2 separate regions of the Homo sapiens genome follow, and region 1 is linked to region 2. The links come from fine-mapping of genetic effects on gene expression. A gene starts in region 2. The other region holds a variant in brackets. All regions are shown on one strand. Distances are from middle to middle.

Region 1 (2,902 bases), 170 kb before region 2:
TTTTTTTTTTTTGAGAGAGAGATCTCGCTCTGTCACCCAGGCTGGAGCGCAGTGGCATGATCCTGGCTCGCTGCAACCTCCACCTCCCAGGTTCAAGAGATTTACCTGCCTCAGCCTCCTGAGTAGCTGGGATTACAGGGGCACATAACTACACCTGGCTAATTTTTTTGTATTTTTAGTAGAGGCGGGGTTTCACCATGTTGGCCAGGCTGGTCTCGAACTCCTGACCTCATGCAATCCGCCCGCCTTGGCCTCCCAAAGTGCTGGGATTACTGGTGTGAGCCACTGTGCTTGGCCTATATTTTTTGTAGAGACAGATTTTCACCATGTTAGCCAGGCTGGTCTTAAACTCCTGGCCTCAAGTGATCCGCCTGCCTTGGCCTCCCAAAGTGCTGGGATTACAGGTGTAAGCCACCATGCCAAGCCTCTTTTTTTTTTTTTCTTAAGACGGAGTCTCCCTCTGTCACCCAGGCTGGATTGCAGTGGTGCAAACATGGCTTATTGCAGCCTCCACCTCCTGGCCTCAAGTGATCCTCCTACCTCAGCCTCCCAAGTAGCTGGGACCACAGGCGCACACCACAATGCCTAATTTTTACATTTTTTTGTAGAGATGAAAGTCTCCCTGTGTTGCCCAGGCTGGTCTCAAACTTCTGGGCTCAAGCGATCCTCCCACCTCAGCCTCCCAAAGTGCTGGGATTCCAGGCATGAACCACCCATGCCTGGTCCTCTAATTGTTTTTATGTTGGCTCTGTTCTCCCCAAACCCATTAAATTTTTCTTTTTTTTAGAGACGTGGTCTCCGTCTGTTACCCAGGCTGGAGTGCAGTCCTCAAGTGGGGTGCTGGTGGCCGTGGTCAGTCACCTAAGACAGAGTGTGCCAGCCTCCCAAAATGCTGAGATTACAGACATAAACCACTGCTCCTGGTCAACGATTTCTTTTTTTAAAAGAAGGCCTGCTCCCTCCCATCAAGATGGAGGTGGAGGTTGCAGTGAGCTGACATCACGCTACAGCACTCCAGCCTGGGCGACAGGGCAAGGCGCCATCTCAGAAAAAAAAAAAAAAAAAAAAGGAGGAGACAGAGCAGGGAGGAGGTTTGGGAGTGAAATAAAAGATCAGTGCTCAAGTGCTATTCTCCATTAATTTTGACCAATTACAGAGAAATAGATTGTTCATGTTGAAGCCAAAGCGTTCATCTGATCTCAGAAGGTTAGGGCAATGGGTTGGGTTGAGGCCCCGCAGACCAGGCAACTACCTCCCCACTGGAGGGCCATGGGAGGTGGGAGGATGGGGATGGAAGAGAAGGAGGCAGAAGCAGTTGCGGTCACAACCCCCCTTCTCCTCACTTGTTTCCTCCCTTGCCGTTTTGTTCCAGCTATTAGCAATTTCTTCTTTTTCTTTTTTTTTTTTGAGATAGAGTCTCACTTTGTCGCCCAGGCTGGAGTGCAGTGATGCCATCTCGGCTCACGGCAACCTCTGCCTCCCAGATTCAAGTGATTGTCGTGTCTCA[G/A]CCTCCTGAGGGGCTGAGATTACAGGCTTGTCACACCATGCCCAGATAATTTTTCTATTTTTAGTAGAGATGGGGTTTTGCCAGGTTGGCCAGGCTGATCTTGAACTCCTGACCTCAAGTGATCCACCGCCTCAGCCTCCCAAAGGGCTGGGATTACAGGCATGAATCACTACTCCTGGTCAGCAATTTCTCTTTTAAAAAAAAAAGAAAGCCTGCTCCCTCCCATCAAAAAGTGGGCAAAGGCCATGAACAGACACTTCTCAAAAGAAGATCAACAAATGACCACCAAGCATATGAAAAAATGCTCAACATCACTAATCATCAGGGAGATGCAAATTGAAACCACAATGAGATATAGAATATATCCCAGTCACAGTGATCGTTATTAAAAAGCCAAAAAAAAAAACTGCAAATAGATGTTGGCATGGATGTGGTAAAAAGGGAATGCTTATACATTGCTGACAGGAAGTAAATCAGTACAACCTCTATAGAAAACAGTATGGAGATTTCTCAGAGAACTCAAAGTAAATCTGCCATTTGATCCTGCAATCCCACTACTGGGTATCTAATGAAAAGAAAACAAGTCACTGTATCAGCCAGGGGCAGTGGCTCATGCCTGTAATCCCCACACTTTGGGAGGCTGAGGTGGACAAATCAGTTGAGGTCAGGAGTTCGAGACCAGCCTGGTCAACATGGCGAAACCCCCGTCTCTACTGAAAATACAAAAATTAGCCAGGCATAATTTAGCCAGCATTACAGGTGGTGGGCGCCTGTAATCCCAGCTACTCAGGAGGCTGAGGCAGGAGAATCACTTGAACCTGGGAGGCAGAGGTTGCAATGAGCTGAGATAGTGTCACTGCACTCCAGCCTGGGACAGAGTGAGACCATGTCTTAAAAAAATATAAAAACCAAAAATATTTCTTTTTAATTTTGAAAGGTCTGCTCCTCATGCCCCACCCCGGCAGGGTCTCCCCTCATTCCTTTCTGTTGTGAGCTGAACTGAACCCTAATCCCCAGTGCCCCAGAAGTTGGCCTTATTTGGAGATAGGGTTTTTGCAGGGGATCGAGTTAAACTGAGGTCACTAGCATGGGTCCTAACCCAACACAGAGACAGACACACCCACAGCGAGATGAAGTAAAGATGGAGGCAAAGCGTCTACCAGCCCAGGAACGCCAGAGATTGCCACCAACCACCCGCAACCAGGAAACAGGCCTGGGACAGACCCTTCCCTGGCGACTTCAGAGGGATCATGGCCCTGTGACACCTCGGTTTTAGATTCTGGCCTCCAGGACAGCAAGGCAATCCATTTCTGTTATTGTAAGGCACGGAGATTGCTGTGCTTTATAATGACAGCCCCAGGGAGCAAAAACTACAGTTTTTTCTGGTCCCCTGTG
Region 2 (2,902 bases):
CCCCGGCCCCATTGGCAGGGAGGGCAACCCCCTCCTCCCCCAGGAGCCGGTAGGCCAGCAGAGGTGAGCTCTCGCTGGCCATGGCTGAGCACAGGTAGAGGAAGCCACAAATGGGTTAGGTGACCTGCAAAGGAGATTATGTTGCATCAAAAGCTCCCCCACAGAGCTCGCCCACCCCCAAAGACCACTAATCAAACACCCTGAAGCCTCCCCAAAAGACAGAGCTGCTCTCTACTAAAAATACAAAAATTGGCCAGGCTCGGTGGTTCATGCCTGTAATCCCAGCACTTTGGGAGGACGAGGCAGGTGGATCACCTGAGGTCAGGAGTTCGAGACCACCCTGGTCAACATGGTGAAACCCCGTCTCTACTAAAAATACAAAAAGTAGCTGGGCATGGTGGCTCATGCCTGTAGTCCCAGCTACTTGGGAGGCTGAGGCAGGAGAATCCCTTGAACCCAGGAGGCAGAGGTTGCAGTGAGCCGACATCACACCACTGCACTCCAGCCTGGGTGACAGAGTGAGACTCCGTCTCACAAGAAAAAAAAAAAAATTAGCCAAGCGTGAAGGTGCATGCCTGTAATCACAGCTACTTGGGAGGCTGAGACACGAGAATCGCTTGAGTCCTGGAGGCGTAGGGCTGCAGCGAGCCGAGATCATGCCACTGCACTCCAGCCTGGGTGACAGAGCGAGACCCTGTGTCAATAAAAAAAAAAAAAGAGACAACCGCAAGGAAACAGGAACGCACCCACACCCTGCTTACCGGCAACTCAAAAAAGTCCGTGGGCTGCAAATGGTACCAGCCACTGCCCCACAAAAAAGTGGTACCCCAAACCTGTCAGCAGGGGTTTCAAGGCCCCTCCCGGCTCCTGGGGGCCACCCCTTCCCTTATGTTCCTGAGACTAGGGATGGCACCGGTTCTGGAAAGGGGCAAAGGTTCTCTGACGGCACAGGCTTCTCCAGCCTCTCCTTCCTTAACTAGCAATGCAAGAGGAACCAAATCTCCCAAAAGGGAAGTAAGTTACGGGCAGGAGAGCCTTCCCCATCCTCTCCTTCGGTGTCCTGAGCTGCCCCTACCAAGCCCCCCAATGCAATCACCGCACCCACAGGTAACAAGAAACTTCCAACTCTTTCAAAACCCCACCCTCCGTCAATCCTCTCCCTCAACCCATCTCAAACCCCCTCCTCCTCGCCTTAGCCTCCCCGATTCCTCCCATCCACACGAGGCACCCCTCCCCACAAACTCTACCAACCCAAACACACCCTAGCGAAACAGAAACACAGACCGGCTCCCACCGAGCGACACAAGGTCCCCGGGTCCTCCTCCTCCCCCAATCCGGGCTCCTGCCCCTTTGCGCCCGTTGGGGTGCAAGGGAGCCAAGATATCCTTCTCCCCGGCCAGGTGCACCCCACAGCTCGGGGGCCGCGAGGCGCTCACTCACCCACCCGCAGGACGCAGCGCTCGGGGGCGATCCCCGCGAGCCGGGGGGCTCCGCTCGGGCGGAGAGTGCACGGGGGCCGGAAAAGACAGCTGCGGCTACCGGGATGCCAGGCCTGGAGCCTGTCCCCACCCCCACCAGCACGCGCGCGCTATTGGTCCCCGTCCTCGGCCCCGCCCCATGGCGCGCCCGGAGAAGCCCGACCCTCTCTGCTCTTCCCCAGCCTGCGCTGCTCCAGCTCCACGTGCGCCCGGGGATGCAATGCAGCCCTGCAGACAAGCGTCTCCGGCAGGACGTGGGCCGCGGGTCTCGGAGCCTCCTTCACTTAGGTACAAACAATCGTCGCCGCAGGGGCCGGACCCCAGTCCGAGCTCCGAGGTGCGGTGAGCAGCCACCCCACTAAAGGGGGCGTGTGAGGATGGCGGAAAGCGGCAGGGAGGTGGGCGGGGCTGCAACACCTGGGCCAGGTGCGTCACGGGAAATCCGGCCCACTTCGTTCAGGGACTTCTGGAGTTCTAGTCCTCCAACCTCTCAAAACCCTAGAACCTCCACCGGGTCCCAGCCTCGCCCCTCACCCGCTGCGGGGATCCTCCCTTCGCGCCCGATCCAGCTGCGCTCTTCGCTTCCGCCACCGGAGGGAGCCATTGGCCGCCGATCTGGGCCCAGGGTCGCTTTGCACCGTCTGATGCCCGCTTTCTTGCCTCCCTGCAGTGTTCTCACTTCCAGCAGAAATCCTAGAGCCTATGAACTCTACTGAGAGCTGAGACTCCTTCTTCACTCTTTACAGATCCCATGAACAGCAGTACCACCTGCCAACGCGTCCTCATATGTAAAATGGGCATAAACTCGAACCTCCCTCCTAAGGCTGTGAGTTCAGTGAGCATTTAATGGGCACTTTAGAACAACGCCTAAAGGTTTGATAAATTATCCCTTGCAAATAGCACTGCATTAAATTAGCCACTCTGTGAGGTAGGTACCGCTATTTCAATTTTTCAGATTAGGAAATTGGAGCTTGGAAAGTTTCAGATACATTTCCTTTTTTTTTTTTTTTTTTTTTTGATCCAGGAACTATTACACAGGCTGGAGTGCAGTGGCGCGATCTCGTGTCACTACAACCTCTGCATTTCCGGCTCAAGCATCCTCCTGCCTCAGCCTCCGCAGTGCCTGGAACTACACAGGCACACACCACGCCTGGCTAATTTTTAAATATTTTGTAGAGACCGGGTTTCGCCATGTTGCCCAGGCCTCTCTGGAACTCCTGAACTCAAGCATGCGCCTGCAGTCCCAGCTACTTAGGAGGCTGAGGCAGGAGGATCGCTTGAACCTGGGAGGCAGAGGTTGCAGTGAGCTGAGATCGCACCACTGCACTCCAGCCAGGGCAACAGAACGAGACTCTGTCTCAAAAAAAAAAAAAAAACTTTTTCAGGGTCAGTTAGTTATAAGCACTCCCTTGGCATACCCTGGC

Evidence for each region. PIP is the estimated chance that this variant, and not a neighbour inherited with it, causes the effect.
Region 1: its variant is fine-mapped to the expression of SLC12A9 in whole blood (INTERVAL, PIP 0.98).

What each region holds. Positions count from the first base shown.
Region 1 is chr7:101,022,905-101,025,806 of GRCh38, reverse strand. All of the region lies in intron 1 of MUC17 (mucin 17, cell surface associated), which reads right to left. Among named protein-coding and RNA genes, the nearest start is that of MUC17, 4.3 kb to the right of the region's middle. The variant G/A (reference allele first, on the strand shown) is at 1,508.
Region 2 is chr7:100,851,378-100,854,279 of GRCh38, reverse strand. SLC12A9 (solute carrier family 12 member 9) reads right to left here and starts at 1,567. Exons shown (of 14, transcript NM_020246.4): 1 at 1,445-1,567; 2 at 1-124. The coding sequence starts at 82. SLC12A9-AS1 (SLC12A9 antisense RNA 1) reads left to right here and starts at 1,666. Exons shown (of 2, transcript NR_146550.1): 1 at 1,666-1,766. RefSeq lists a silencer at 1,331-1,640 and enhancers at 1,931-2,080, 2,151-2,350.